Regions from separate parts of the Homo sapiens genome. Here regions 1, 2, 3, 5, 6 and 7 are each linked to region 4. The links come from fine-mapping of genetic effects on gene expression. A gene starts in region 4. Each other region holds a variant in brackets. All regions are shown on one strand. Distances are between the middles of the regions.

Region 1 (4,567 bases), 80 kb after region 4:
CAGCTTTAAAAGTTACTGATCTAGTGCTGAGATCCTAGGGACAGGAAAGTAATGTGACTTAGTCAACTGGTCAGGGGTTTGGGGGGTATTAAACACATACAAATAGTCTTCACTTCCACAATAACTATGCTTTTGCTCATTTTCCTTGAAACACACAGCCCACTCAACTAATGCTCATATACCTGTTTTGATGGCATGGATATAGAGAAATGTTTATCCACAAAATGAAAATAAAGCAAAACTAAAACAAAAATAACTGGGCAAAAAATATTATAAGTAGTAACTGACATTCACCTTTAGTGTCAGTGAGACAATAGGGAGTGGTGGGGTTTGTGCCCAACTATCTAAAAGGGGCAGTTTCATTTCCATTTCAGCCACTTGCTGCCATGTGGTAATAATGAAGCCATCTAGGGTCAATGAAGCAATCTTATTGTCTGAGGTGTTGAGTTCTTTGTCTCACAACCAAGAAAATTAAGGAGCACGGACACCAAGGGTGAGGTTGGAGTGAAAGTTTAATAAGCAAAAGAGGAAAGCTCTCTGCAGTGGAGAGGGTTGCCATTTTACAGTTGAATATAAATGTTTTTATAAGAAATTGTCCTTGTCTATGTAGTGGCCTGTGTAACTGCCCTTATCTGTACAGCTGTGGACATGTCTCAGGCAAGCCTCCCCCGCCAAGAAAGTTCCCACGGAGCCACCAGGTACATGTCCACAAAAGGGGAGGAAACTTTCCTGGGAGTCCGCTGATTATACAATGAACAAAGGTGTTTCTATGTTGGGGCTTGTCCCCTTATCTGTGTAGCTGTAGGTTGATTTTTCAGCCTATTTCTCTGTTTAAAACAATTCTACCAGTGACCTGTCTTAACTGTCTGCCTGTTTTTTTCCTTTCTCCTGTCTCCATATGGATGGTGCAATCACATTTCTGAGTTTTCAAGGTAAGCCAGAAAACTGATTTGTGTGAGTGGAGTGTGTATGTGTGTGTGTGTGTGTGTGTGAGAGAGACAGAGAGATCCTAATTATTAATTTTGGTTTACACATTTAAACATATGGTGTAGGACAAACAAAAGCACATCTGTGGCTCATCTAGGGCTGAAAGCCAAGTTATAACCATAGTTTAATTGCTCAGTATTAAAAATGACAGGCCGGGCATGGTGGTTTACACCTGTAATCCCAGCACTTTGGGAGGCCACAGCAGGCAGATCGCTTCAGGCGAGGAATTGGAGACCAGCCTGGCCGGACATGGTGAAACTCCATTTCTGCTAAAAATACAAAAATTAGCTGGGCATGATGGTGCAAGCCTGTAAGGCACGAGAATCACTGGAACCCAGGAGGTGGAGGTTGCAGTGAGCCAAGATCACACCACTAAACTCGAGCCTGGGCAACAAAGTGAGACTCTGTCCTCAAAAAATAAAAATATGTATAAAATATAAATGACAAAGCATAGGCTGGGAGAGGTGAATGACTCACCAAGTTTCTGTCAGCTTATTCAAGAAAGAGCTAAGATAAAAATCTAAATTTGTTAACTCCCAGCTCAGTGCCTCTCCACCTTCTCCACCCACACTGCTCACTCCTATATCTATGTGTAGTTGGAGAAGACATGCGTGGTTGCCTCCTAGGACCACTCCCCTTCCCCATCTCAACTGCCCTTTAGTTTTGCATCCGTACTGCTCTTGCCCCACCTCTCACTCTACGTTCCATATATTTCTAGGGCCAATGACCCCTTTCCCAGCCTCAGGATAATCCTATGCCCCCTCAGCAGTGATTGATTCAGGAATCCAGGCCTTTGTTAGTGAGGGTGTAGCATTTAGCTGGCCATGAGGGATAATTCCAACATGTGTACATGACCCAGTTTGGGCCAATAAGAGTTACTAAATATTTGAGGAAGAAATCCCCTAGCTGCTAAGAGGGAGCCTCTGAGGCAATCTCTAGTTCATCCTCTGAATGTCCTGACATTCATTCATTCAGCAAATGTTTCTTAAGCAGCTACTATGTGCCAAGCACTGTTCCTAGCACTGGTGATACAGTAGTGATCACAA[A/G]GTGGAGCTAAAGTACTACTGGGAAAACAGAAAAAAAATGACTGAAAAAGTAACTCAATGACATGGCAGATAGATACTAGCAAGTATGATTGAAAATAATAATGCAGAATAAGAGAAAATGGAGTAGAGTGGAATGAGTGGGTACACAAAAATATAGGGTAGCCTGAGTATGTGAAGGTAGAAATTGTCATAGCCATTCTGCCATCACAAGGGAAGCAGCCTGATGATGAAGCCATCACCTAGAGGAGAGCATGACCAAGGAAACTGCAAATAAATGGAATAAGAGCTTCTGGATCAAGCTGTTCCTGAAGCTTACCTCGCTTCTGGACTACCAGTTACAAGATTTTCTTATATTTTAAGTCAGTGTATGTATTGGGTTTGCTGTCAGTGACCTGCAGCCAGAGGCATTCTAATAATTATATTAAATGAAATGACATATAGAGAGTTTGATTTTCTTGGGAGCTTTTACTTGAGTCATTTCAAGAATAGACCAATATTTTGTTGGAAATATACTTAAGGTGCATTTGAGATAGAAGATTCTTTCCTAAGGATTGTGAGGGTGAGAACGACTGCTCTGCACAAAACAAAACAAGAGATTAATTTTCTTATGGTTCTGGAGAGGGAGATGAGAACAACAGAAGAACAAGAGAGGAAGCAGAATCTGCATATGGTGGAAGGTCACCTTCTCCATGCAATATGAACCTCTCTGTGACTCTCCCCCAAGGCCCTCAATAAAGCCTATAAAAGCCTTCTAAGTATTGCATTTTGTAAGGGATTGAGATAAATTGAATGATTGAAAAAATAATATATCTTATTGACCAGTCCAGGTTCTCAAATAGCCAGGCCAGGTCAACAGATACATAAGATGGAAATCTTGCAGATATTTTGCAAACAAATGTGTAAAACTCTAGAAGGCATTCCCACTGGTTCCATATTAATGTGTGCCTTTGCCTTCCATTTCAACCATGTCATCTTTCATTGTTCTCTCACATACAACCTTCTATCTCCTTCTGCATTAAATCATCATGCATTTTGCTATTCAATCAATGGAAACATTTAATAAAGGTTTGCTAAAGGTCAACCAACATGCCAAGCACTAGAGTTATACAGCTGAATAAGACAGAGTCGTCCTGAAAGAGTTCGCCTTCTCAAGGGAGAATGGAGACATGTGTTCCCCCATACCACATGCCTACCATGTGCCATCACTATGCTGGTCCTTAAGTATGTTACCTCACTTACACTACAGAATGTTGCTCTCAAGCAGAGGTCAGCCAACCTTGTCTGTAAAAGACCAGATATTAAACATTTTAGTCTTGTGCTGGCCAAGATATAAAACTGAGCATATGATATAGATACTTGTATAACATGAGAGGAGATAACATTCCACACATTTTTTATTAATGGAAGTCAAAATATAACAATAATTGAATACGATTTATTTTTGTAATACAAGTCTACTAAGGAGAAGAATAAAACTCTGTGGGGTAGAAAATATTTCACTTAATTGGGCTTCCAAGTGAGTGTGTATGGTATGGTTTGAATGTCTTTCTTTGTTGCTTCCAAAATTCAGGTTAAAATTTAACCCCCAATGCAACACTATTAAGAGGTGTGGCCTTTAGAACTGAGTCATGAGGGCTGTGCCCTCATGAATGGGATTAGGTGCCCACCTGAAAGGGCTTGAAGGAGGACTTTCACTCCTCACTTTTCACCCCCTGTCCCTTCCACCATGTGAGGACACAGTGTTTCTCCCCTCCAGAGGATGCGGCGACAATGCATCATCTTAGAAGTGGACACCAGGTCCTCACCAGACACCAAACCTGCTGGTATCTTGGTTTTGGACTTCTAGCCTCCGGCACTGTGAGAAATACATTTCTGTTCTTTATAAATTATCTGGCCTCAGGCATTTTGTTATAGCCACACAAATGGAGTAAGACAGTTGGCTATTGTCAAATCAATTTCAAATGCTCATTTGTTATAAACCACTCTCACTGCAATGAAAGGAACCAATCTCCCTGGAAAAAAATGGCTGATTCTAAGTCTGAAGCAGGAAACACACAAGATGAGCCTGGAGCATCCTGTATTGCCAGAAAGCAAGAAAGTGCTAAAATGCACGCACACACAGGCACAGGTACATACACACACACAGGCACATGTACACACACACAGAGATACACAATGATGAAGGTATGTCAAAGGTGCCGACTAGAAAAGCTCTCAATGGCCAAAGATGGAAAATTTTGAGCAAAAAAAAAAAAGTGTTAAATTATACTCCAAACAATAACAAAAATGTCCGTTAGTCCATACTAGTATAAATAAGTTATTGAATAAATAAACGTGGGAGAATAAACAAATTTCTCATGCAGAATCCCAAATAATTGAAGTAGATACTTTATCCTTAAGGAAGTGGAGAAGCATAACTCCCCGCTCCCTAAGTGTGGGCTACACATAGTGACTTCCTTCCAGAGAGTACAGTCTGGAGAGAAGAGGGAAAAGGTAATTTTACAGTGGAGAAGCCTGACCAATGCTTCAGCCAG
Region 2 (4,567 bases), 68 kb after region 4:
TTTCACAGGCAGTAGAAACTTGCTTGGATTAAAGTAACAGTTACAGCAAAAATTATATAGATAATTACTATTTATAAACACTTACATTTTCAGATAATTTTTAAAAATTTCATTCACATGTTATGAAAGTAATACATGGTGATTTTAATGTTTCAGTCAACCCAGGCTTGTCTAAAACAATGCCTCTCTCAACATGTAATGTGTATTCAACACACCTGAGAATCTTGTTATACTGTGGATTCCAAGCAGAAGGTCTGGGGGTGAGGCCTGAAATTCTGCATTATTTATTTATTTATTTATTTATTTATTTATTTATTTATTTATATTTTTTATTTTTTGAGACTGAGTCTTGCTCTGTCACTCAGGCTGGAGTGCAGTGGTGCGATCTCGGCTCACTGCAACCTCCGCCTCCCAGATTCAAGCAATTCTCCCTTTTCAGTCTCCCAAGTAGCTGGGACTACAGGTGCACGACACCATGCCCAGGTAATTTTTGTATTTTTAGTAGAGACAGGGTTTCAACTATATTGGTCAGGCTGGTCTCAAACTCCTGACCTTAGGTGATCCACCCACCTCAGCCTCCCAAAGTGCTGGGATTACAGGCGTGAGCCACCACACCTGGTCAAATTCTGCATTTTTTAAACCAACTCCAAGATAATGCAGATGATGCTATTAGGTTGGCACAACAGTAATGGCAAAAAACACAATTACTTTTGTGCCAACCTAATACAATGAGGCTAATAAATTTGGGTCTAGAAAATGTAACAGTCTCCCTCTATCACCAACCCACTCACAACCCATCTCTCTGATTATATTTAAGGCTATATTATGTCAGGTTCTATTATTCTATAATCTGTGTTCTTTACTAACCATAGAGAATGAGCATCCTTCCAGGTCAATGCCAAAAATGTAACTCATTCTTTTAACTGTATGCACAGAATTCCATAGGCAAAATGCCATGATTTATTCACTTTGCCCCTTACTGAGAGGGGGGATGTTTCTAAGTTTGGAGCCATTTTTAAGCTCACCCATATTCATCTTCTTTCTCTGTAGCTGAGAGAGGGACATAATTAGCAAGCTTACCTGGGCCTCACACCAAGCTCTGTACTCTTCCAAGTGAGGAAAGGTAGTTCAGAATGTCTCAGAATGAAATAATTGAACCAAACTCCACAGCAGACAGGAGCATAACTTTTCTGATTCTCCAGCCAAAGTATGATTCCTGCAAGAGATCTTGCTGGTCAACTAGGAGGCCCATGACATCACGGGATAAACAGAGTTCATCTTCCTTTGTGGCCAGTTTTACTTGAATTCCGTGGAGGCAAATCAATTCCTTATTTTCATATTAAAACACACATGTGTAATCAAAAATAAAACATAAAATTCACAGAAATTTTTTGATTAAATCATGAAAGCTCCAAAATATTTTCTTGCCTGTGGCCAGTTGCTTTAGACTCTCTGGAATACAGCTTATGCCTCTCTGCACTTAAGAGCAGTGTAAACGTAGCATTGAGAATCAGACATTAACTTGGTGCCACACCCTTATCTACAGGTGAGAAAACTGAGGCTCAGGGTGGTTGACTAACCTTAGACAGCTGATAAATTACAGCAGGTGAATAAGGTAGTCTGGACTGTTAAGATGAAAAAGCTTGTGAAGCTTTGCAGAGCTGAGAATGGTTTATAAATCACGATTTTAGTTCTGCAGTGGTCAAACCTTTCTGCATATTAAAATCAGTAGAGAAGCTGTTAAAGTCCCCAGTGTTCAGGTCCAATCAACACCAATTAAATTAGAGGTTTTGGGGGTAGGACCTAGATATCAGTCTTTTTTATAAATTCCCCCATGTGATTGCAGTGTTGAGCCAGGGTTGCCAGATTTCGCAAATAAAAGTATAGAAGACTCAATTAAATTTGAATTTCAGATAACTAATACATTTTTTACTCTAAGAACATCCCAAATATTGCCTGAGACATACTTAAGAGTTACTCATTGTTTATCTCAATTAAAATGTGACTAGGCCTCCTGAATTTTGTCTG[A/G]GCCCTCCCTGATGCAGGCAAGTTTGAGAGCAAGGCTTTAGGGGAAGTCTTTGACTGCAAGGGGGCCCAGGCAGCACTTCAAGGTCAAGGTGCCCAGCTCTGCACACTGATGGGTAACCCTCCATCCAAATTTGCCCAGTCTGAGATAGGATTCAGGAACCAGGTGGATGGCATCTTTCGAATCAACAGGGTCCTGGGCCTGACACTTGTGACTGTTCTCCAAAGACAGAAACACGGTGTAATTTATGGAAAAGTGAGTGAAGCAGGTGGTAGATATTAGTGGTTCACGATGCTCTGCTGCATGTAGTTTACGGCTTGCCAAAGCCTCTTTTCATCTGGTTCTGCAGATGTATACACAGGGCAAACAGTTGAGCCTCTGACCAGACCCTGAAAAAAGCTTAAATGCTCCCAGCAGGAGAAAGTCCTTTCTCATAAACACCAATTTCCTGCCATGAGCATCTCTGCGTTTTCTGAAAGTGACTACAGGTTGGTACTGGAACCCCCCTTCTTCCCCCCAACTTCTTGTCTCCTAGACCTGGTGACCGGGACACTGAGAAGCCCTCTGCCTACTTTTGCTGAAGTCTCTCAGGATTCAAAATGCAACCAAGCTGGGTACAGTGTTGCATACCTGTGGTCCCAGCCACTTGGGAGGCTGAAGCAGGAGGATTGCTTGAGCCCAGGAATTTGAGGCTATAGTGCAGTATGTTTGTGCCTGTGAATACTCACAGCACCTCAGCCTGGGCAACATAGCAAGACCCTATATCTTTCAAAAAATGCACCAAACCAGCAAGAAACAAAATATTTGTAAACCAGTTAGAATGGCAAACACTGAAATGATGAAAAGAGAAAGACAGCCAGGCATGGTGACTCACACCTGTAATCCCAGCACTTTGGGAGGCCCAGGTGGGTGGATCTCCTGAGCTCAGGAGTTTGAAACCAGCCTAAGCAACATGGCAAAATCCCGTCTCTACCACAAATACAAAAAAATAGCCAGGCGTGGTGGCGTGTGCCTGTGGTCCCAGCTACTTGGGAGGCTGAGGCAGGAGGATCATTTGAGCCTGGGAGGTCGAGGATGCAGTGAGCTGAGATCATGCCACTACACTCCAGCCTGGGTTACAGAGGGAGACCCTGTCTCTCCACCACCCCTCCCCTACCCCGAAAAAAAAAAGAGAGAGAGAGAGAGAGAGACTAGCCCTGGGAGCCAGTTGTTTTCTTCCTGGAACTGGGAGGTGAGGGTGCCAGGTGAAATGCTGACAGGTGGCCTCCACTGGAAGCCAGCAGCTGCTGGCCATGCAAAATTGTCTAAGGGAGTCATTCCATGGGCCAGACCTCCCAGAGCTCAAGAATTTCCAAATCCATCGTGACTCACAAACAACGAACTTATTACCAGGAAACATTGCTGTGAGCCACCGTGTTTGTCAAAGTGCTAATGTCCTTATATTTTAACCAGACAGTTCCGTAAACAGAGGGTCCTTTCCAGCACACACTTTCCTATTTGATCACTGTTTCTCTCTGGTTTCACACCTGTAAGTGGTATCCACGGGAAGCCGAAGTGGGCCCGACTTTGCACCATTTAACCAAGACCAGCTCCCATTCAAACAGACCCCAAATCCAGGACAAGCAACATGTGGGCTAGGGGAGTGTAAGGTGATGACGGGGCTTTTCGCAAAAGCACATGTGGAGGAAGCAGAGAGGAGGCTGGCTTCCTCCTGCCTGGTGTCCCAGACTCCCAGCCCAGGGAGCCAGCCAGCGGCCTTGCCACCCCCATTCTCCATGAGTGTCAGAGATTCCAGCCTCCCACCAGACACACACACAACCAATTAGCCCTTGCTTTCCCACTCCCTGAGTTCCAGATGGCCTTTGCCAAGACGGCCCTGTGGTCTTGCTCCAAACATGATCGATTACAGCCCAGAAAAACTCTTGAAGGCATTGGTTGCTTCTGAAGTTAAGACTATGAAATTACTTTTCTTCACTGAAGTCCCCTCTGAACTTTGGAAGCCACAAAATCCTTCCTGGAGCAAAAAGCCCATTTCATGGGGCTGCCTGAGCTCCCAGTGCAGCTCTCAGAGGCCACCATGACTCATGTGGCAGCAGTACACCCACAAGACCTCTGTGGCGAGGACACCATATGGTCACCAGGAGCAGCAGGAACAGCACCAGGCCAGCCTGGAGGGCCAGTGGGACAGGGGCCCAGCTCCCATGGATACAAATTCACCCCTGCTCCACTCGCTACATAACTGATTCACTCACCAAACATTTCTTGAGCTCCTGTTACGTTCTGATGCATTCTGGACCCTATGCTAGGCAATTGAAGATGAAACTCTACCTTCAAAAATCTCAGTTCACAAACCTCAAAGAAGGTATTTAGGAAGGCAGGAAGGCCTGCTGGAGAGGATGGTGCCTGCAGCAAGACAAAAAGACATGTCTGACATCTGGGGAGACAGAAAGCGTGGAAAGACCACAATGTCAGGAGTACCAAAAATAACTGCATCCCAAGAGTCTTCGTACACTCACCTGGCGAGGCACATCCAGTGAGCTG
Region 3 (4,567 bases), 110 kb after region 4:
CCCAGAGGTAAATTTGTTTTTCCAGGTTACATAGTTAGAATATGATGGAGCTTGAATCTGAAGTCGACTTTGATCCTTTTGTTATTCCATATTTTGCCTACATTATCATCACCAGAAGAAGTAAACTTTAGATTTTTTACAATGATAGGATTTCACTTCAAAATTTCTTGATGATATCCTGTGTGTTCCTGACTTTTCATCTATACTCTCCTATATATTTATCTTCATGAATCCCATTTTAAAGTTATAAGTAGATATTACTCTGCCCTAAAGGCACAAAGTGTGTCAATTTGTCATACTAAACTTTAGAATGAAAACTGATCCCATTTTCTGGAAAAGTAAACTGAGGCTCAGCACAAGCAAATGCAGTCATAACGAGTGCCTTGGCCAGGATAAGAACCAAGGTCCTGCTGACCCAAGTCTGGAATCCTTTCCACCAGCAGATTCCACCAGACTGGACTTAACATCCTATAACTACAGTCCCTTAGAATTTTACCATTGAAATCCTTTTCAGTCCCTTGTCTCTCTCTTCAACAAGAAAGTAGTTCTCACCCATCTTTAGCAAGGAAAGTTAATTCGAAGCCCATTCTGTATGAGAGCAATTGAGAATGCTAAGGGGGAGGCCTATAACAATTACACACTTCACACTTTGGCTGCATGAACCAAGAAGAAAGACAGTGAGTGAGCAGGTAAGAAGCTAAATCATATCCTCAGCCTCTTATCAAGTTGATCAAATTGACGTTGGAGAATGTGGTCAAGTTGGTCAAGTTGATGTCAGAGAATGTGGTCCACATTTGGACAAGAGAGTTTCCTAATACCGGCCACCCTCTACATTAGAAAACACTGAGAATGAGATGACCCTATCCAGCCATAGGCAGCCAGAACCACCAGTGAGGGCCTGGTCTTGTGACATAGAGAGGAGTGGAGAGAGCAGACAGATCAGGCCAAGTGACACAGACAGACAGGCAGAAGCAGGCAGGCAGGACTGTGGGTACTGATTTGCATCCTTCCAAATTCACACAGAAGACAAGTTTTCTTTATCTGTCAAAAGGTGAGTGAGCAGGTGACAGAGCGCGGAAGGGAGTTCTTATGCAACTTTCCCAGGAAAAGAAGCAATCTGGAATAGGGAGGAAACTTTCACCCAACCAGCATGGTTAGCTCTCTTCGGCTATGAAAGATCAAATTGCCCCAGCTAATTTAAATAAGAAGACAATACCTTTCAAAGTTGAATCTTTAACAGTTCCAAAACAATTGAAAACTCGATTGCAGTCAGGCACGGTGACTCACACCTGTAATCCCAGCACTTTGGGAGGCCAAGGCAGGTGGATCATGAGGTCAAGAGATCGAGACCATCCTGGCCAACATAGTGAAACCCCTTCTCTACTAAAAATACAAAAATTAGCCAGGAGTGGTGCCACACACCTGTAATCCCAGCTACTCGGGAAGCTGAGGTAGGAGAATCACTTGAACCGAGGAGGCAGAGGTTGCAGTGAGCTGAGATCATACCACTGCACTCCAGCCTGGACACAGCAAGACTCCATCTCAAAAAATAAAAATAAAAAAATAAAATAAAATAAAAAAAGAAAACTGGAGGGGAGGCTGGCAAAATGGCCGAATAGGAACAGCTCTGGTGTGCAGCTCCCAGCAAGATCAATGCAGAAGGCAGCTGATTTCTGCATTTCCAACTGAGGTAGCTGGCTCATCTCATTGAGACTGGTTAGACAGTGGGTACAGCCCATGGAGGGCGAGCAGAAGCAGGATGGGGTGTCGCCTCACCCGGGAAACACAAGGGGTCAAGAAACTCCCTCCCCTAGCCAAGGGAAGCCATGAGGGACTGTGTCGTGAGGAACGGTGCACTCCAGCCTAGATACTATACTTTTCCCATGGTCTTCACAATCCACAGACCAGGAGATTCCCTCGGGTACCTATGTCACCAGGGCCCTGGGTTTCAAGCACAAAACTGGGCAGCCATCTGGGCAGACACTGAGCTAGCTGCAGGAGTACTTTTTTTTTCCTACCCCAGTGGCTCCTGGAACACCAGTGAGACAAAACCGTTCACTCCCCTGGAAAGGTGGCTGCAACCAGGGAGCCAAGTGGTCTAGCTCAGCAGATCCCACCCCCACGGAGCCCAGCAAACTAAGATCCACTGGCTTGAAATTCTCACTACCAGCACAGCAGTCTGAAGTCGACCTGGGACACTGAAGCTTGGTGGGGGGAGGGGCGTCCACCATTACTGAGGCTTGAGTAGGCGGTTTTCCCCTCACAGTGTAAACAAAGCCGCCAGGAAGTTTGGATTGGACGGAGCCCACCGCAGCACTGCAAAGCCACTATAACCAGACAGCCTCTCTAGATTCCTCCTCTCTGTGCAGGGCATTTCTGAAAGAAAAGCAGCAGCCTCAGTAAGGAGCTTATAGATAAAACTCCCATCTCCCTGGGACAGAGCACCTGGGGGAAGGGGCAGCTGTGGGTGCAGCTTCAGCAGACTTAAATGTTCCTGCCTGCC[G/A]GCTCTGAAGAGAGCAGTGGATCTCCCAGCACAGCACTTGAGCTCTGTTAAAGGACAGGCTGCCTCCTCAAGTGGGTGCCTCCTGACAGAGAGACACCTCCCAGCAGGGATCAACAGACACCTCATATAGGAGAACTCCGGCTGGCATCTGGCAGGTGACCCTCTGGGAAGAAGCTTCCAGATGAAGGAACAGGCAGACATCTTTGCTGTTCCACAGCCTCCATTGGTGATACCCAGGCAAATGGTCTGGAGTGGACCTCCAGCAAACTCCAGCAGACCCACAGCAGAGGGGTCTGACTGTTAGAAGGAAAACTAACAAACAGAAAGGAATAGCATCAACATCAACAAAAAGGATGTCCACACAGAAACCCCATCCAAAGGTCACCAACATCAAAGACCAAAGGTAGATAAATCCACGAAGATGAGGAAAAACCAGCACAAAAAGGCTAAAAATTCCAAAAACCAGAATGCCTCTTCTCCTCCAAAGGATCACAACTTCTCACTAGCGAGGGAACAGAACTGGACAGAGAATGAGTTTGACGAATTGACAGAAGTAGGTTCCAGAAGGTGGGTAATAACAAACTCCTCTGAGCTAAAGAAGCATGTTCTAACCCAATGCAAGGAAGCTAAGAAACTTGAAAAAAGGTTAGATGAATTGCTAACTAGAATAACCAGTTTACAGAAGAACATAAATGACCTGATGGAGCTGAAAAATACAGCAAGAGAATTTTGTGAAGCATACACAAGTATCAATAGCCAAATAGATCAAGCAGAAGAAAGGATATAAGAGACTGAAGACCAACTTAATGAAATAAAGCATGAAGACAAGATTAGAGAAAAAAGAATGAAAAGGAATGAACAACGCCTCCAAAAAATATGGGACTATGTGAAAAGACCAAACCTGTTTGATTGGTGTACTTGAAAGTGACGGGGAGAATGGAAACAAGTTGGAAAACACTTTTTAGGATATTATCCGGGAGAACTTCCCCAACCTAGCAAGACAGGCCAACATAATTCAGAAAATACAGAGAACACCACAAAGATACTCCTCGAGAAGAGCAACCCCAAGACACATAATCATCAGATTCACCACAATTGAAATGAAGGAAAAATGTTAAGGGCAGCCAGAGAGAAAGGTCGGGTTACCCACAAAAGGAAGCCCATCAGACTAACGGCAGATCTCTCTGCAGAAACCCTACAAGCCAGAAGAGAGTGGAGGCCAATATTCAACATTCTGAAACAAAAGAATTTTCAACCCAGAATTTCATATCCAGCCAACCTAAGTTTCGTAAGTGAAGGAGAAATAAAATCCTTTACAGACAAGCAAATGCTAAGAGATTTTGTTACCACCAGGCCTGCCTTACAAGAGCTCCTGAAGGAAGCACTAAATATGGAAAGGAAAAACCAGTACCAGCCACTGCAAAAACATACCAAATTGTAAAGACAATTGACACTATGAAAAAACTGTATCAACTAACGGGCAAAATAACCAGCTAGCATCATAATGACAGGAGCAAATTCAAACATAACAATACTAACCTTAAATGTAAATGGGCTAAATGCCTCAATTAAAAGACACACAGTGGCAAATTGCATAGAGTCAAGACCCATTGGTGTGCTGTATTCAGGAGACCCACCTCACATGCAAAGACACACATAGGCTCAAAATAAAGGGATGGAGGAATATTTACCAAGCAAATGGAAAGCAAAAAAAGGAGGGATTTCAATTCTAGTCTCTAATAAAACAGACTTTAAACCAACAAAGATCAAAAGAGACAAAAAAGGGCATTACATAATGGTAAAGGGATCAATGAAACAAGAAGAGCTAACTGTCTTAAATATATATGCACCCAATAAAGGAGCATCCAGATTCATAAAGCAAGTTCTTAGAGACCTAAAAAGAGAATTAGACTCCCACACAATAATAGTGGGAGACTTTAACACCCTACTGTCAATATTAGACAGATCCACGAGACAGAAGATTAACAAGAATATTCAGGACTTGAACTCAGCTCTGGACCAAGCAGACCTAATAGACATCTACAGAACTCTCCACTCCAAATC
Region 4 (4,567 bases):
CATTCTCAAGTTTCCTATCCAGCATGATATCCACTGCTATCTCTGTGGCCACAGAGCCTGGGAGTGGCAAAGTGGCTTCTCACTGAGGAATCGGACAGGCATGTTTCTATATCACGGTGAAAGGAAAAGAAAAGGAAAAAACCCCAGACAGCAAACAGAGATTGTGACAAAGATAACCACAAGGAATGTAAATAAAATATGATAAGCAGCTCACTCACCATCTCATCCTCAACAGCTCTCTCAGAGGCAAAAGTAAAAACATATAAATTATGTGTTTTCAAGGAGAGTCAAGCAATACTCTTTGGGAAGAAGCCACGGATATAAAAAAATTTTTCCGCATTTGTCTCACTTCTCTAATCTCAAGGCTTGAGATGTATGTACTTTCAAAAGAGACTCATCGAAATTTGGGCAGCATGAAGTTGAGCCCCCTGTTGGTAAGGACCTTCCAACAGTGACTCGGTCTTATTGGTGATAAGCCCTGTTTATATGAGCTTTCAAAAGCCTAAAAACAGGTTCTTTCAACATGACACCTTGAAATAAAATAAACGCATTGCAAACACCAACTGCAATAAACCAGGCTCACGCCAAAATGCACACGTGCACATTTCACAAAATAAGGGGGAGACATTTCTAGTGAGGAGCAATCTCTATGGGAAGGCAAGCGAGAGCGCCCACCTGCCAAGGGTCACATGCTCCAGAGCGCACAGGATTCCCTAAGTGAAACAGGCCGGTAGGAAGAACTTGAATAGTCAAAAATCTACAAACTCTTCAGAGGTACAGATCATCAGGCCATAAAAGCCACCTCAAGGAATTTTGGTCACATCTCTCTAAGGACTTCCAAAAGCTACCCTCTGCACTTGAACAGGAAACCTGCCAGCTCCCCTCAATCATTCTGCTCCTTTGGAATAGAAGTTACGCCTTTAACCGAAGGAGAACTTCAAATGCGCCACTGGTATCTGGTGCCACTGCCAAAATATATTTACATCACCTTCTATCAGTCATTCAGAGCCCAGTGCTGATATTCTCTTAGTAAGACAAGGAGGGGGTTAGGAGGTTGGTCATCCACCTCCTCATCTGCAAGGCTAAATGCAGGTTTTCTTGTTTATTCTACTTGAGACCCTGGGGAACTGGTCTGGTGTCTCAGGCTCTGATAAATTGAACACACTCCCCGCAAATCATGGCCCAGGGAGCTTTGGAAAGGAGCTGTGGGGCATCTGTTTCTGCTAAATGCAATGCCCTCTGCGGGTTGTTCCTCTGTATGAGGACTCCTAGACAAAGGTTAGCCTCTCCCTGCATCTGAGAAACTGTGCTTGGGGCTGTAAATGTTCATTGAGAAGCCTCCAACCTAGCCAGGGCCTGGCCTCATTGTCCTAAGTCTTCAGATGCACTCAGCCTCCAATGGTGCTGTATTTTACCAGTTAAACACGTCTTCAAAGTTTACTACGAAACAATGTGGCTCCTAGCTTGCCAAAAGTTTAACTGCAGGATTCAGTGGATTTTATCTGGCAGAGTAGCTGCCGTGACTCTTGACAATATTTGCCAGCAAAAGGCAGTCCTCAAACCTTGCAACCAGGGCAATCCCAAGGCCCAACGTGTCACTGAAGGAGTTCTTCTGGGAAAGGTCCCTCTTTCTCTTCAATCGCCTCCCGCAAATCCCCAGCTTCCAGAATCCAATTCAAGGCAGTCTGGCATTTCAGGAGACAGCAGTAAAAAACTTTTGATGGGATAACCCAGGACATAAATATTCCTGGCTGAACCTACTTTTGATTCTTAAATATCTGAAGGAGCTTGGGTTTAAGGAAGATAAAGGGAGAGAACCAATGAATAGGGAAAAATAAAATAAGTAGCATACCATGACCAAGCCAAACCAAGCTTGATATTTCCACATTATATTGGCAAATGGATGCTTTCACATATCACTTGTTCTGTCTTTCCTGGTGACCACAAAAAAAAAAAAAAAAAAAAAAAAATCTGGCTTCAAAAATCCTAACCCCAGACCACTGCATTGTGTCAGTGGAATGCAATCTAAATTGCCAGTCAGAAAGTCCAACCTTATATGTACCAACCAACACGCACACAAGCACCTCCAAGCCAAAAGTTGTAACGCCTGAACCCGTGCGTTTATCAATTTCATCATCCCCATACCCCTGCCGGGTTCCTGGCGCTGGGTAAACCGACAGCATCATGTTGCCATCGATGCGTCTTACAAGATGGTTTTGGGCAAATCCCCTAAAGTAGGCAGAAGCAAAAACTAGGTTCCTCTGCCCGGGCACCTCCTCCTCCAGGCTGGCCCCCGGCTCCCGGGTGCCCCTTACCTGCAGGCGCTCCGTGGCCGGCTGCCACATCTTCCAGCCCTGGGTTTTGGCAGAGGAGACGCTGGCGAGACTGTCGATCGCGCCGGGGGGCGAGGGGCTGGGGTCCCGCTTTACATCTGGGGTCGGTGTCCGCGGGATGTGCGTCCTGGCGCTGGCCACCGCCGCCGGGTGGGCGTAGGGGGCTGCGAGCAGGAGGAGGCGCGGCGCTCAGCTGCCGGCAACTTGTGGGCACGGCCGCGCGCCGGCTGTCCTGGCGCAGCTGCGAGAGGACTGCGCAGCTCCGCCCGGGCCCGGCGAGCGCGCGGCGGCGGCGGGGGCGGCCGCTCCCTCCTCCCCCGCCGCCGCCGCCCGGACCTGCGCGCTCTGAGCATGCCCGGGGCGGGCGCCCAGGGGCCGCGCGGGGCGGGAGTGCAGCGCGGCCGACTCTAAATCCTAGTGAGGGGTGAATGGGGAGGCTAGAACAGCCGGCCCTTCCCTGCAGGAAGCCCCCATTGGGTTGGGGTCTGGGAAAAGGGACAGACTGGCTGAGGGGGGAAGGGCCTGGAGCCGGGGGTGGTGGGGGCAGCGGGGATGTCGGGGGTGGCGGGGGTGGGGGAAATTCCTAAAATAAGGAAACCGTAGCCCCGGGGGTCCCGGGTTTCCATATAACAGGCATCTCTGAAGTGCCTGTGCTGTGCCTGGCGCTGTGCTAGGGAGACACTTCCATTCATTCTTCCCACTCCAGTTAACTGAGCATCTATTAGGCTCCAGCCCCTATGCTGGGTTCTGAGGATGCAGCGACGCAGAATAGAAGACAAGAGAATGTTCCTTCTCTCTGGAGCTTACCTTCTGCTTTGGAGAGAGAGTCGTGACTGAGCAAACACATCAACAAGCCGGTGCTATATCGGGTGGTGATAAAACAGGGCAGATGTGGGAAGAAGGGGAGAGGAGAGCTTCTTAGACAAGGGCCCTGGGGAATGCCTGGAGTAAGACCTGAGAGATGAGAGGGATTGGCCACGAAGAGGCCATGCTTCATGATGGGGAGAGGACTCGACTCCTAACCTATACAGGGGTGAGGAGGGCCATGCAGACTCCCGAATCACTAACTCATCCTGAGATCTGCCAGGTGCAGCAGGAGGCTCTCAGAACCCAAGGGAAAGCCGCTCTGGGCTCGCAGGCCTGGAGGCTCCCCGGCTAGTGCCGGCCACCATGAGATGACTTCCTGTCCTAAACAGGCCAGCCCTTCCCATTCTCTTGACAACTCGGCAAAATAACTATTAATATTTTCACCATGTGGATCAAACAAATGAGGCTTATAAGGTTTAGGTCACTTGTCCAGGTCACACAGCCAGTGAGTGGCTTAGAGAGTGCACAGTCAGATGACTTCAGGGCAGGAGATGTGGCCCTGCGCCTCTAACTGACCATGGAAACCCAGTGGAAAGAGCATCCGTCTAGGGCTGGGGGTTAAAGGCACTTGGCAAGTCAGGGATACTAAGCTGATTCTCGAGCTGATGAAGAGTGGGAGAGGAGAACATGGTGGGAAGAACTCAGGACATAGAATGACCAAAGAGAGGAGCAGAGAGAACACAATGTTTGTGGGGAGCCCTAGGCTCCTACAAGGCAGGGTCCTGAGAGCAGAGGGGTGTGAAAGAGAGGCATTTCATACTGAGACAGCTGCACAGCTTGGGCCGTGAGCTACTCATGCAATGTCAAAATCCACACTCCATGTCTGGAAGGAGGATCTGTCCATTTTCCTTGTTCTGCATGACTACAATGATTTCCAGATATGGAACCACTCCAGAATCTAACCCTCAGCTCATCGGACCCTCGCAGCAACTCTCCGTGGGACAGAAGCCCCTATCTCCCAAGGCTTGGGGAGCACAGGGTTCACAGAGTCACACTGTGGGGAGTTACAATGGCGATTCAGATCCAGGATTCCAGGCAGATCCTTCTGGACCCTGCGGTTGCTATGTTGGTGCCACCAGCCTTGGCAAGCCCAGGACCCTCAGTGCCTCTAGGAGCCTCTGGCAAAGCCACAGAGCTGCCTCTGAAGAGCTTGTCTCTGTCTCCCTGGATATCCACAGGACCCTCCCACTCCTGCCTGATAACCACCTGAACCTTCTCAGCTCCTTCTCCAGTTCCTGCTACTTGTTCTGAACTTATTAATAAATCTCTTTTCATGAGGTGTTTGCCTGTCAGCCCGCACAGACATGTGCCTCACATGCTTGGTGATATGGTCTCTGTTTGCTTTTCCGGTAACTCCTCCTGCACAC
Region 5 (4,567 bases), 90 kb after region 4:
TACAAATCTTTAGTTTTAATCAGTGTGACCAAGGGTTTGTCATCAGGACTGTAATCTTCATAGGCGATGGGGCTCACATCATACATTGCAGGCCGGGATTTCTTTCCAAACCTGAAATCAGAGAGAAAGGACTCTGGTTAGATAAATACTAGATCTCAAGTTTAATTAAAGCAAGTGATGAGAATAATTTATATGCATGAATTAAATGAAACTGTAAAAACATATTCTATAGCAAGCATAGAAACTTTAGACATCCTAATATTAACACTGAATGTGTATAAACATTAGTCTTTGGTGTTCGAGGCAAAAAAACATATTTCACAAAATGTAGAGCTCAAAGTTGGAGCTTGCAGGTTAAATCTTGGCAAAGCAGTCAAGCATGACAGCTCCACAATAGATTTTAAGAAAATGTGTATTGATTTGTCTTTTTCTTCTGAGGCCCATAAATATTTGGAGAGGTGAGTTTATTTTATATCTACTCCAGTGCCTGGAATATAGAACACCAGGGCAGTCTTCCCCGGGCCATGGACAGACAGCCTTTCCTGTGGGATTTTCAGGGGATAAGCTGTGAAGGTTTAAGGTCATCTGAGATCCCAACACAAAAGGGCAGAGGTGGGAAATGACTTCAGATACAGAGGTGTCTGTCCACAAACTATGCCAGAACTCACCATTGAATCCCACCCACCTATCACCTCCCAACCTTATGGACACAGAAGCCAATGTTTTCCTCAGAGCACAAAGCCATTGTCCCAACAGATTTGTATGTATCAAAATTGCCTCGACAGCAGGACTGCCTCTCAGAAGCCAAGGGAGTCAAAATCCAATTTCAGGACTTCCTGTCAAACCTGTCGTAAGGTGGCAATTATTAAAATAAAGCCAATTCAACTTCTGGGTGGTCTCTTCCCATTCAAGACCTCACCTTCCCTACAAGCCCTGGAGTGCAACAGGATTCAAACGATCTTCCACACTAACCCATCCTCCCTCCTCCTTTGTCTGGACAACATTTTTTAATTGTTTCAATTCCACCAGGGCTCTTTAAAAAGACATTTTAAAAGAACCTTAAATTTTACAAGGTTCCTAGGATGGGGTCCCTAGGAATTAAAGGGGCTTATTTGCCATGGCTCCTGTCCCAACTCTCCTCTTTTCCTATTTTTTCCTTTGATATGTTGAAAGTCTGTCTTCTCATGTATGGAGATGGGAAGTAGAATCAAGCGGGAAATGAGAAAACAGTGCGTTCTTCATGTGATCTTTCATTTTAAACAGTCATCAATCTTGTATTCCAATCCTCTCAAATTTTACTGGCCTTGAAGAGCACAAAGGCATATGCTATGCCAGACAGGCACCAGGCAAAACACGGGGTTAAAGAGTTAAAGCATTCTACCCTCAGAAAAACCCACAGCTATTACTGCAATATGACAAAAGACTTCAATAAATACTTTCTAAAATGTGAAGCCTCACTGAAGGTCCACCATTGTGCTCACATAGATGTGGGTCAGGCTCTAGCCTGCAGTTTGTTCACCTAAATTGAGTGAGGCCTGCATAATCTAAGGATAGGAAAAGTGTCAACAGAGTAAAAGTGTCAACAGGCCTGTTGGGTCTTACACTTTCTCCCAAGTCTGACAATTTCCTAGGCTGCTTTAAGATGCAAACATTTTGACAATTTATTTCTCATAAAATACCTAGATACACCACCACTAATAATAATTTAACCAAAAATATCCAGCAACCCAGTGAAGAGCTCTCCATATCTAACATAGTAGGATATAGAGAGCTTTGACTTGAGGGCCAACAAATTATATTAACTAACTAATTATTCGATTGGTTGGCTGAAAGGAAAAACCCAATTGTATATATCTTTAAAACATCCTTTTTTTTATTTTTTATTTTTGAGACAGAGTCTCGCACTGTTGCCCAGGCTGGAGTGCAGTGGCGTGGTCTCGGCTCACGCGGCAAGCTCCACCTCCTATGTTCGTGCCATTCTCCTGCCTCAGCTTCCCGAGTAGCTGGGACTACAGGCGCCCGCCACCACGCCCAGCTAATTTTTTGTATTTTTAGTAGAGACGGGGTTTCACTGTGTTAGCCAGGATGGTCTCAATCTCCTGACCTCGTGATCCACCCGCCTCGGCCTCCCAAAGTGCTGAGATTACAGGCGTGAGCCACAGATCCACTGAGTATGACAAGGCAAGGGCTGATGCCTCTCAAGAGTGAGCCACATGGCCACCTATGCATGTTCAAGGTCAACTGAAGAGCAAGGAGCACCACTCTGTGTCCACACTGGTTAACTGAGCTGTGTGGCCCGGTCCTAATGGGATTAACTCCAAACAAGTATGGGTCATAAAGTATAATGCTAGTTACGAAGGTGGTTAAAATAAGACTAATAGCCCCAGCACCAGAA[G/A]AGAGAGCAGGCAGGCTTGGAGCTGGAATCCCTGCATTTCAACTTACTAGCTGCTGAGAACTTTGTCCAAATTCCTTAGGAGAATTTTGGAGGTTTCCACCTGAAATGCTGTATCTACCATATGGAAGCTAAAATGACGTCGTTTATAGAAACACCACAGTTTTAAAACACACAGTACAATGAAAAGACTTTGTTTGAATCTCCTACACCTCTCACAGTAGCAGGCTTACACTTGTTGGTAAACGAATGTGCATTCATGTCTACATTTAAAAGACTAACAGTGTTTTTTTTTTTAATATCTCAGGCACTAAATCAATGTCAGAGGCTGTTTATTTTATTGCAGGCATTTTCATGCAAGTGTTCATTTTAAAAATAACTACTACTTTTTATCATAAAGGTACATTTTAAATGTAAAAAAAAACCAAAATAAAATTGGAAGCTAGAGAAAATTATAAAATAGACTAGGGGTTAGCAAACTATAGTCCACAGGCCAATTCCAGCCTGATGCCTGTTTTTCAAATAAAGTCTTAGTTGAACATAGTCAAGCCTATTCACACTTCCTCTGGCTGCTTTTGCACAACAAAGGCTGAGTTGAGTAGTCAGGACAATATGGCCTGCAAAGTCTAAAACATTTTACAGGTCCCTGATGAAGACCACAAGAATCGCCCTTAGTGCTGCTCTCCAAAGGACGTGTCAATGTTTTGTGCATTATTCTTCAGTCTGCCCATCCCTCAATCCCACATCCCTTCCATTCATTTTACAAATATGTATGAAGCCCCTCTGAAAGTATTATATATAATAATTATATTACATATTTTAACAAAATTGAGAAAATACTCTGAATACTGTATTGAGACTGACTTTTTTCAATCGATAGTCTGTGTAATGTTTTACTCAGCATTCTTGTTAAGTAAAAAAAAAAAATTCCTACAAGTTAAAACATTAATAAGAAAATGTTTCTTCTGTGCTGGGTGGGGCGGGCTGGGTGGAACACTTAGTGTTCATAGTAACATGTTCCCACCTGAAGTAGCTCATGGCCCACGACATGACCACAGACCATGACACTTGGGAAATGTCTGCTGATGGTCCATGAGGAAGCCAGATCTTTAAAAGATGGGAAGGAGTTGACACACTCCCCCTCCTCCTGAAAAAATAGCTCAAATACCCTAATGTGGTGGCTCCATCTGCGGCTCCTTCCTAGCCCCTCGAGGGGTGATGCATCCATTGTCCTTGGTGCTCACTCAACATCACATTCCATTGTCTTGTTTTCACTGATTGATCATCTCATCTCATCATCATAACAACCTCGTGAAGTGAGTACATCTCATTTATCCTGTATTACAGATGAGGAAACAGACACTTAGGAATAATTTTCCTAAGGTCACACCTGGTGGGAGGTGGAGCTTTCTGGCTTCCAAGCCTAGATGCTGAACACTTCGTTGCAACCTTCATGCATGTGACGACCCCATAAACTGAAGCTCTCACTTAACCTGTGCCTGACAAGAGGCTATGTACTTCTGCATTGAAAGGCATCACCTTCAAATCAGCACATCCTCCTTCTCATTAACAAACTCTGGCTTACAAATCTCACTTACAAGTCCTGGTTTTCTCACAAACTCTGTGACCCTTGTGTAAATTGTATTATCTCACTAAGCCCAAATTTCTTTTGCCTATAATGGGGGACTAATGATACATGGTCCCCTACATTCTTGTGAGATGCTTGCCAATGAGTTATTTGTGAATGATTTAGCACAGTGTCTGGCCCACGGGAAGCTTTCAGTAAGTGTTGGCCATCACAGAGGCACTAACAGAAATGACAGCACCAGTAATATCAGTTAGCACGGACATCTCAAACATCCTATTTGGTGACAAGTCTTGTGTGTCTATTTCTTCAAAGAAACAAAAGATACTGTAACCAGTTATAAGGCAGGTCAAAGAGCCGCTAGTTCATGGTCCTCTGAAAGTCAACCACTAAAACAATGCCGCAGAAAGAATGTCAGATCTTGAGAAAGGCCAAAATTGGAAGGTTTTGAGCTATTGGGGAAAAAAACTGAACATGTCCTCCATTGTCTTTTTCCCGTGATCAGGCACTTCTAGCTCGTAGAGCAGTCAACTGAGTGGGACCTCAGTGTCAGAACTTGGAGAACCCTGGCTTTGCTCCTGCTGGTCAGT
Region 6 (4,567 bases), 150 kb after region 4:
ACTTTATCCCTAAAATACTACCTATCTAAGTTCTAACTCCAGGTAAGTACTAGTTAGGAATTTAAACCCATCCATCTGACAGTTTCCTGAATGTATACAGACATACGATATGTAAATATATATTGGCAAAAATATTTCCAAAAGGGGGAAAATGTCCATCCCCCCACGGAGAGAAAAGCACAGGATCATGTGGCCTCTCACTTCCCCTCACTCTTCCTCTGGGTGGAAGAGCATGATTAGATCCTCCTGTCTCTCCTTTAATTCCTTCTACCTACCCTCCCCATGTCCCCACCACTCTTAGTTTAGAAGTTCTACCATTTACTGCTACATTACTAGGGTTTACCTCCCTGTTTTCAGCAGCCTTATTTAAACCTAAACCTAAAAGTCTTTATAAATATACTAAAATTAAATAAACACTTTATCTGCCCATTGGATTTGTCACCCAGGCTGGAGTGCAGTGGTGTGATCTCAGCTCACTGCAACGTCTACCTCCCAGGTTCAAGCAGTTCCCGTGCCTCAGCCTCCTGAGTAGCTGAGATTACAGGCACCCGCCACCACACCTGGCTAATTTTCGTATTTTTAGTAGAGACGGGATTTCACTGTCTGGTCTTGAACTCCTGACTTCAGGTGATCTGCCCACTGCAGCTTCCCAAAGTGTTGGGATTACAGGTGCGAGCCACCACACCAAGCCAGGAGTGAAATGTTTAACACACTTGTATGCCTTTCAGTCTTTCCTATCCTCACCCCCTTCAACACATGGCTTTGTTTTAAATAATATGAAACCACTTTACTTGTTGAAATTTTTCCTTAAGAGCAAGAGTGGTGGACACAGCCTAGAGTGACCCCTAGGGAGTCACACCCTTGTGTAATTCCCTCCCTTTGAGTGTGAGCTTCCAACCAAGAGCAAATGGCAGTTAAGACATTTTGAAGATGCAATTAAGGTCCCTAATCAGTTGACTTTGAGTTCCTCCCAGGTGGGCCTGGCCTAACCAGGTGAGACCTTTAAGAGGGTCCAGGCTGGGTGCAGTGGCTCATGTCTGCAATCCCAGCACTTCGGGAGGCCAAGACAGGTGGATCACCTGAGGTCGGGAGTTCAAGACCAGCCTGACCAACATGGAGAAACTTTGTCTCTACTAAAAATCCAAAATCAGCTGGGCATGGTGGTGAATGCCTGTAATCCCAGCTACTCAGGAGGCTGAGGCAGGAGAATCGCTTGAACCCAGGAGGTGGAGGTTGGTGTGAGCCGAGATCACACCATTGCACTCCAGCCTGGGCAATGAGAGTGAAACTCCATCACAAAAAAAAAAAGTCCAGGCCTTCCCGGAAGTTCAAGACTGGAAGCAGTGGGGTCTCTGTCATAGTTGCTAGCTTTCAAAGAGCAAGCTGTCACAAATCCTACAGCCACGAGGATATAAGTTCTGCCAATAACCTAAGGGGACTTGGAAGCTGATTTCTCACTATTCAAGCCTCAGATGAGAGCTCAGTCAGTCAATACCTGGCTTTCACCCTTGTGAGCCCCTGAGCTGGGAATTGACTAAGCCACACCTGGACCTAGGAAACTGTTAGGTAATAAAAGCATGTTGTTTAAGCCAGTACCGGGTACTGATTTGTTATGCAGCAATAGATAGCTGATACAGAAGGCGGATCTACTTTTTTCAAGAGACTTTCCTTCACCATTATATTACCATTCACAATCACATAAATATCAAATATTTAGATTTATGCCTGCATTTAAAGGCATACATCTCTTCCTTCCATTCTCCATCTTCCCCTATCTGGATATCTTTGTTTTGATTTAGTTCCTATTTGGTGGCGATGCTTATTAAGGTACTTATCTTAGGGTATAGGGTGCTATATTTTCTGTATCCTTGAATGTATGGCAATGTCTTTCTTTTGCCCTCAAATATAAACAACAAACTCCTAGTCCTTTTCATTTAAAAGTCTGAAACGCTGCTCTGCTATTCTTTACCTCATGATAGAGAGGGGCAGTACAATGCCGATTTGATTCTCTTTCTTCTGTATGTAACCTGTGATCCCTTCGAAGAATCTTGTAAAAAATTCTCTTTATCCTTGCAGTTACAAATTTTACCAGGAAATCTCAAATTGTGTATCATCTCCTTCATTAATCCCATTACTGCCCTGTGAGCCCATTCTATTTGAAAATAAGACTTTCTTCACCTCACAGACACCTCCTTCTAGGAGTTAGTTAATTCTGCTTCTATTTCCACATGCTCCTTCTTCTGGAGCACCCATCGCTCAGGCAGAAGCAGATCTCTCAAATCTTTTCTCCATGTTTCCTGTCTTTTCACTCGTGGTTTCCACTTCCTCATATTTTGATTCTCTCATGCACTAGTTCCTCCTTTTTATTCAGATCCAAATTCAATTTTGAGTAGTGTACATTACTTTCTTCACTTCCTTTCTTGAGTGTTTAGAGCTGTTGTTGCAATTTTTGTTTTTATTTCCCAAAACTTTTCTCCCTCTCTGAGTTGCTGGCGTGGGCTAGTGTACTGGCCAGGCTAGTGGGTGGAAATCTTGGCAGAGACAGACAACATAACACATTCCCCTTCAGGGATGGATGGGCAGCCAATGGGGCCCTGTGTACTAAGGCATGAGGCAGAGAGAGGCCTCCCAGTTTGGTGTTCTCAAGGCCACAAAAAATGGGGGGGCCAGCTCAGCCTACTGTGCAATTTCCTTAGACAGCAGCCCGTAGCCATGAGATCAGTACACCCCTCTGCCTCC[T/C]AGGGTCAGACGCAGCACAATTACAGCATGCACTTCCTCTCTATAAGCTGAAGGATTTTTTTGGACTAATCTGTTCATTGAGTCATCAGTTCTCTCTGGAGCCCTCATCCCCTGTTCTTGTGGTTAAGCAAAGGCTCCCAGCACACATACCCTTTCTTGAGACCCCAAATCTTCAGATGACCCCATTCAGGGTCATCTACCTTATTGAGCCATCCCTAGCAGAGAGTCAGGAGGGATCAGAGATATTGAATGTCAATGTGAGCTGCCATCTTCCTAGAATCTTCATTTGTTCAGAGTAAGAAATCCATGAAAATATTTATACACATGGAAAGGAGCAAGGGGAAAGAAGGAGGTTGAAGATATGTAGAGAGAAAGGTAATAGATAGATAGACTCAGAACTGAGAAGCCTGAGAATGAAGCCAGCACATCTGCTGTTGTGTCCTGGTAGATGTTAGTGGAGTTTGGTTCTAACCGAACGTCATACTCCAACAGAAGCATCAGATCTGTGGAACACAAAGTCAAGACCTGGCCCAGCTTCAGCCCTCTTATCCAGGAGCTTAATCAAGTTTTCAGTGTAGCCTACAAGGCCATGAGACTTGCCAAAAAGGTTACTAAATAAAGGTAGGTTCATCCAAAGAGAAGCAACGGTGAGGGCAATGCAAGGTCTCCAGCCAGGTGGATGGCATCAAGCAAGCAGCAATAGGAGCAAGCGGTTGAATGAAATGGCTATAAATAGAGCCCACAAACGCATTCCAAAATCTAAACCCGGCCCCGTAGTTATGGCTTAGAGAAATGTGTGCAACAGCTGATAAATAGGTTCTCCTGGAACAGGGCCGTCTGAGGATATCTGGGCTCCAGGAAGCCTTGCCATCCACAAAACGTGGCCAGAGGCCAGTGAAGATGCTGGGAAAGGGCTTTAGGAACCACGCTGACCAGGCTTATAGGGGAAGAGCATTACTGTCCACCTCATAGGGTTCTCGGGGGGATTTAGTGAGCTATGCACATTAGGGGTTAGAACGGGGTCCACACATTGGAAACACTCTGTCAATGTCGCCTGTTTTTAATAAGCATTAACTTACTTGCTGATACATGGGACTCCGCCTGCCTCCTCCCCAAGAAAGCACAGCATTCTATCTCTGCATAAGAAGCTTTATAGGACGGCATCCTTCCTCTTCCACAGTTTTCACAGCCATGGTCTCTAACCTATGTCTGACAGTCCATCTTAATATTACTTTTTGTTTTCAGCTTTTTACACATTCAATAAAAAAGAAAGCGAGGATCCACAAAGAACAGGACAGGAAAGGGGGTTGTTTCTCAATCTATCAGGAAGAAACCAGAGACTTGCAAATTGGTCTCCTTGGACCGATTAATCATGCCAGCTTCAGCATTTGATTGTTATTCTGAACAATTCATGGTCCAATTAGAGGTTTATGCATTTACACTGAGAAATACATGACGTCATTTAGAGCCATTCTGGCACAGGAAGGCCAGGCGGCCTCTCACCTTTGTATTCTGCCAGGCACACACACTCATAGCCATTAACGAGGTCCCTGCAGGTGGCTGCATTCAGGCATGGAGCGGAGAGGCACTCATTATATTCCTCCTCACAGTAGAGGCCATGGTAACCTGAGGGACAGAGAGAAAGGCCCACTGTCAAATGCATCCCATTTACAACCCACGCGGGACCAGCCTGCAAGGAAGGCAGTTGGGGGTATTCATTAGAAAGTATGGTATAAACAGATGGGATTTCAGGAGCTAGATCTCTTGGGGTAAAGTTGAAAGGTGGATTTGGGGGAAGGCTATGAAGAAAGCGCCTGTTCTTATCACA
Region 7 (4,567 bases), 60 kb after region 4:
GTATATAAAGAAATGCTATAAATTAATAATAAAAAGACAACCCAATTTTTTAAATGGGCAAAGATTTGATCAGACATTTCATGAAGAATATATATAAATGGCCAAGAAACACTGGAAAAGATGCTCAACATCATTAGTCAAATTAAAATAATAATGAGACACTATAGTTGTGCACCCAAGTGGGTGATAAGTATGGTATCTGACATACCCAATTAAAAACACTGACAATACCCAATTTTGATGAGGACGTAGAGTATTTGGAAATGCTGTGCATCGCTTGAGGAAATGTAAAATTGAACAACTTATTTGGAAATCAGTTTGACAATTTCTTATAAAGTTAAATACACACTTAGCTATACAACTCAATAGTTTTACTGCTAGGTATTCACTCAAGAGAAATAAGGACGTATTTCCATGCAAAGACTTGTACAAATATGTTCATAGCATCGTTTGTAATCATCAAAAAGGGGAAAGGCTCAAATGTCCATCAGCAGGTGAATGGATAAACAAATTGTAGTATATTTGTTCAATGGAATGCTACTAAATAATAAAAAGGAGCAATCATGGGCAACTGCTTTGTTAAAACTCATAAAGTGATTCATAGACACAAAAGAGTACATACTGTATGATCCCATTTGTATGTCATAAAATACATAGACTTAAGTAGACAGCCAAACACAGATCAATGCATGCCTGGAAGCAGAGGTGGGAAAGATACCACAAATGGACGTAAAGAAGCTTTTTGGATGGCGGCTATGTTCTAGATACTGATTGTGTTGGTTAAATAGGTTTATACTTTTGTCAAACCTCATCAAACTGCACTCTTAAAATGGGTGCATCTTATCTTATTGTATAGAAATTGTACCTAATTAAAATGAATTTTGGAAAAATGCTGGTCATGGATTGGTAAAGAGGCTCTGGAGGAAAGATGATCAAGCAGCGATGGAGGAAGGTAGCAGTTTTCTGGGCAAGTTGGCCAGTGAAGAATTCCCATGGTGAGAAGGCTGAAATACTTTTAAAGATAGGACTAAGTCATATTAGATTTTCAGTCATTTAAGTGGAAAAGCCATGTTCACATATTTTCATTAAATTCAGTTGACCTACATGTGCCTTGTGTGAAGAGCTGATTTTCAGCTGGTAAAGTAGTCACATGAAACTTTTAACAGCCAATGCCAATTCTGACTGGGGGTGATTTATTCCTATTCTTTAGTGTTCATCTCCATACTTTTTTGGGTGTTTTTTTTCTTTTCTTTTTTTTTTTTTTTTGAGACAAAGTCTCATTCTGTTGCCCAGGCTGGAGTGCAGTGGTGCGATCTCAGCTCACTGCAACCACTGTCTCCCAGATTCAAGTGATTCTCCTGCCTCAGCCTCCCAAGTAGCTGGGATTACAGGCACGCACCACTGTGCCTGGCAATTTTTGTATTTTTAGTAGAGATGGGGTTTCACCATGTTGGCCAGGCTTCTCTCAAGCTCCTGATATCAAGTGATTGCCTGCCTTAGCCTCCCAAAGTGCTGAGATTACAGGCGTGAGCCACCGTGCCTCGCCATACTATTATTTTTTAATCCAACTCCAGCTTGTGTGAAAGCTTTTTGTAGAAAAAGGATGAGATCCATATCTGGGTCAGAATGGAGCACAGGAAAGAAAAGCTGTAGAAAGTGAGACACATGGTCTTGTGAGTCTGACCTCTGTTGGGTTCTCAGAGTCAGAAGGAACTGTGAGCCTGTGAGACCCTGGAAGTTGCCAGAAATTTTGGAGAGTCCATTGGCTGTTCCCTAATCATGAGCTAGGGGCCTGGAGTTAATTATTTTTGATGAAGTACATTAAATAAAAATAAGTAAATAAAATATTTCCAGCTGTCCTTTGAAATAAATAAAATGTTTTATTTATTTCAAAGGACAGCAGACAGCTGGCATATGAGCTATGCCTTCATTCACCCCATGAGCTATGAAATCACTCTTTCTTCCTAATGGGTTCTGTGCCTTGTACAGATATCTGTGATTGAATCTGTGAAATACTATAGTCTCTGGACTCAGCAATGAGCTGGAGGTCTAATTAATCTTTATATCCTCAGCACCTCGCATAGGATTTGGCACAGGAAAGTCACTCCGTAAATGCTTGTTGAAGTAACCTTTGGTTCTTAATACAACCAAGACTTCCCATCGTTCATCAAGTCTTGCCCTTATTTAACTGTCATCAGTACCCTGGTCAGGGTTCATTTCCATGCTTCCCCCTCCTGGCTTCCTCATTTCTTTATTTTTTTCTCTTGCAGATGGTCCTGTGGTTTCACTTCCTATTTGGTTTCTGAACTCTCTGAGCACGAGACTTGGAGACGTGGAGTCCTTTCACTGCAGCTTTCAAAACCTTTCTTAGGGCTGATATGACAATTGCTGGCACTG[C/T]GTAATTGCTGTGTGGCTACTTGAAAACTTCTCCACTAGAGACTCACTGAGAGCACCTATTCTGTTGAATGGATTTGGCACAAGGAGGAGGAGAGAAGACAAATGGCCTGGGCTGGTAAGAGACAAAAGTGCCGTGTGTGAGTCTTGGCCCACCTACCTGCTGTGAGACTCTGGGCAAATCACCTGGTCCCTCTCTTCCCACATCTTCTGATGAGCCTTGCTGCCTATTTCCTGAGTAGCTCAGTGGCCACCAGAGACCCCAGGCTCTTTATCAACATTTCAAGATTGTGTAAGTTCTGGCATTTTGTACATTATCAAAAAGAGAAGGCTAAGACCTAAGTCAGGCTAAATTTGATTCAGGAAAACACCTGACGTTTTTGTACTTAAGTATCGAGGGGTAAATCACATCTTTTGCACCTGAATCCGTAAGAACTGTGGCCTAACCCTCTTCTTCTGGAGAACTCACTTTCCTGTCTTTCTGAGACTCCAGCTAGATAGTCCTTTGGCAGATGTTGACCCCATACTACCTTCTCCGTGGGCAACATCTGAGTGCATGGTCTACCTTAGTGAAGGACCTCTCCTTGCCCCTGAAGCACTTCTATCATCCTGGACCTCAACGTGGAATGGTGACCCCTACCTGCCCCACCAGTCACGACCACCTTCTTCCAGCACCTCCAATGTGTCTGCCCTCCAGCACCACCTGCTCCCAACGTAAGACTGCTGGGGTGAGGTTGCAAAACTTGTGTCTCCCTTAAGTATGGCTTCTGTACAGGTTTGTACCCAGTTGTATTTTAATTAAAAGCTTGGCTCTCTAACAATGCAGGTTCTAAAGAGGCCTTAGTTTGCTCCCATTGCCAGTCTTCTTAGAGACTAAATTCAGTCAGCGGGGGAAGGCTTTGCCTCTGCTTAGGATTGGAAGCCTCCATATGCATAATTGCAGAGGGGCAGTAGAGGAGACTAAATGCTTATCTAACCTATGGTTTTTATCAACGGTGGTCGGTTTGTTATTATTTTTAAATGAGTTAGATTCACTTTAAGATGTAAATGGAAAATGGCTCCCAAGTTGTCACAGGCACAGTGCCAAGTATTTCAGACACTTATGAATATCATTAGATAATTATCATATTTGCTGTCAATAGCACTCATTAATCTCGTGTTCAGGGAGAGGAGCCCTTCAGAGCATAATTGCTGCAGTTAGAAACATCTCTATCCCAAGTGCCAAGCAATTCCATGTGACCTTCCCCTATAGACAACCCCATAGTTCTATGTGATGCCATCCTCTGTAGCCACACACCCCACCAAATTCACAGCACCTCTGCCTTTCCCCTAAGTAACTAAGGGTCTCATTCAATTCCATTCAACCAAATGTATGGACCTCCTTCTGTGTGCCAAATGCTGCCCTTGTGCTAAAAAACATAGATGTTCCACCTCAAGGTGTTCACAGTTTAGCGTTGCTGATAAAAAGGCAAGCAAATAATCTCAACTCCACGTAACATGCGCAGTAGGAGAAAGATGTGCAGATATGGTTCATTAAAAAGGAGTTACGCCTATAATCCCAGCAACTCAGGAGGCCAAGGAGAGAGGATTGCTTGAGGCCAGGAATTTCAGACAAGCCTGGGCAACATGGCAAGACCCCATCTCTAAAAATAATTAGGCAGGTGTGGTGGCACACACGTGTAGTCCCAGCTACTCGGGAGGCTGAGGTGAGAGGATCGCTTGAGACCAGGAATTGGAGGCTGCAATGAGCTATGATGGCACCACTCCACTCCACCTCCAGCCTTGGTGACAGAGTGAGACTCTGATTCTAAAAAAAAATAGAAAAAGAAAAGGAAGGAAGGGGCTCTCTCTGGAAGACCAAAAGAGGTCACCCAAAGAAGGTGATGTCTGTCTGCCTTTTAAAGAATGAATAGGAGTTTAGAATGCAGATTGACTGGAGGAAAAGTATTGCTATGTGAGGCTCCATTGCTTCTTCTTCTCTGCATTCTCACCCCCACGTTAGTAGACATATCTAGGGTACTGGGAGGTGGAAAATAAGAAGATAGAGTGCCCAAGGGATTTTACTTTTGAAAGGAAAGATAAGACTAGCTGGTGAGAAGAATAGATTGGCGGGAGGCCAAATGAATAATAATTACAGCAAACACATTACCACACTTACCAGATGCTAGGCGTG

Direction of the effects. Positions count from the first base shown, and alleles are read on the strand shown. Sizes are in standard deviations (SD) of each study's normalised expression. Not every link is listed here.
For the expression in non-classical monocytes of the gene that starts at base 2,589 in region 4, allele A in region 5 goes with a lower level than allele G (large effect, 1.1 SD a copy in Schmiedel 2018).

What was found. PIP is the estimated chance that this variant, and not a neighbour inherited with it, causes the effect.
Region 1: its variant is fine-mapped to the expression of PID1 in whole blood (INTERVAL, PIP above 0.99).
Region 2: its variant is fine-mapped to the expression of PID1 in whole blood (TOPMed, PIP 0.96).
Region 3: its variant is fine-mapped to the expression of PID1 in whole blood (TOPMed, PIP 0.96).
Region 5: its variant is fine-mapped to the expression of PID1 in non-classical monocytes (Schmiedel 2018, PIP 0.95).
Region 6: its variant is fine-mapped to the expression of PID1 in whole blood (TOPMed, PIP above 0.99).
Region 7: its variant is fine-mapped to the expression of PID1 in whole blood (TOPMed, PIP above 0.99).

Annotation. Positions count from the first base shown.
Region 1 is chr2:229,349,104-229,353,670 of GRCh38, forward strand. No RefSeq gene overlaps it. Among named protein-coding and RNA genes, the nearest start is that of PID1, 80 kb to the left of the region's middle. The variant A/G (reference allele first, on the strand shown) is at 2,034.
Region 2 is chr2:229,336,455-229,341,021 of GRCh38, forward strand. No RefSeq gene overlaps it. Among named protein-coding and RNA genes, the nearest start is that of PID1, 67 kb to the left of the region's middle. The variant A/G (reference allele first, on the strand shown) is at 2,029.
Region 3 is chr2:229,379,378-229,383,944 of GRCh38, forward strand. All of the region lies in intron 11 of DNER (delta/notch like EGF repeat containing), which reads right to left. Among named protein-coding and RNA genes, the nearest start is that of PID1, 110 kb to the left of the region's middle. The variant G/A (reference allele first, on the strand shown) is at 2,504.
Region 4 is chr2:229,268,699-229,273,265 of GRCh38, forward strand. PID1 (phosphotyrosine interaction domain containing 1) reads right to left here and starts at 2,589. Exons shown (of 3, transcript NM_001100818.2): 1 at 2,316-2,589. The coding sequence starts at 2,345.
Region 5 is chr2:229,358,541-229,363,107 of GRCh38, forward strand. DNER (delta/notch like EGF repeat containing) reads right to left here. Exons shown (of 13, transcript NM_139072.4): 13 at 1-111. Among named protein-coding and RNA genes, the nearest start is that of PID1, 90 kb to the left of the region's middle. The variant G/A (reference allele first, on the strand shown) is at 2,396.
Region 6 is chr2:229,413,866-229,418,432 of GRCh38, forward strand. It overlaps DNER (delta/notch like EGF repeat containing), which reads right to left. Exons shown (of 13, transcript NM_139072.4): 9 at 4,243-4,365. Among named protein-coding and RNA genes, the nearest start is that of PID1, 140 kb to the left of the region's middle. The variant T/C (reference allele first, on the strand shown) is at 2,740.
Region 7 is chr2:229,328,874-229,333,440 of GRCh38, forward strand. No RefSeq gene overlaps it. Among named protein-coding and RNA genes, the nearest start is that of PID1, 60 kb to the left of the region's middle. RefSeq lists an enhancer at 1,755-2,835. The variant C/T (reference allele first, on the strand shown) is at 2,398.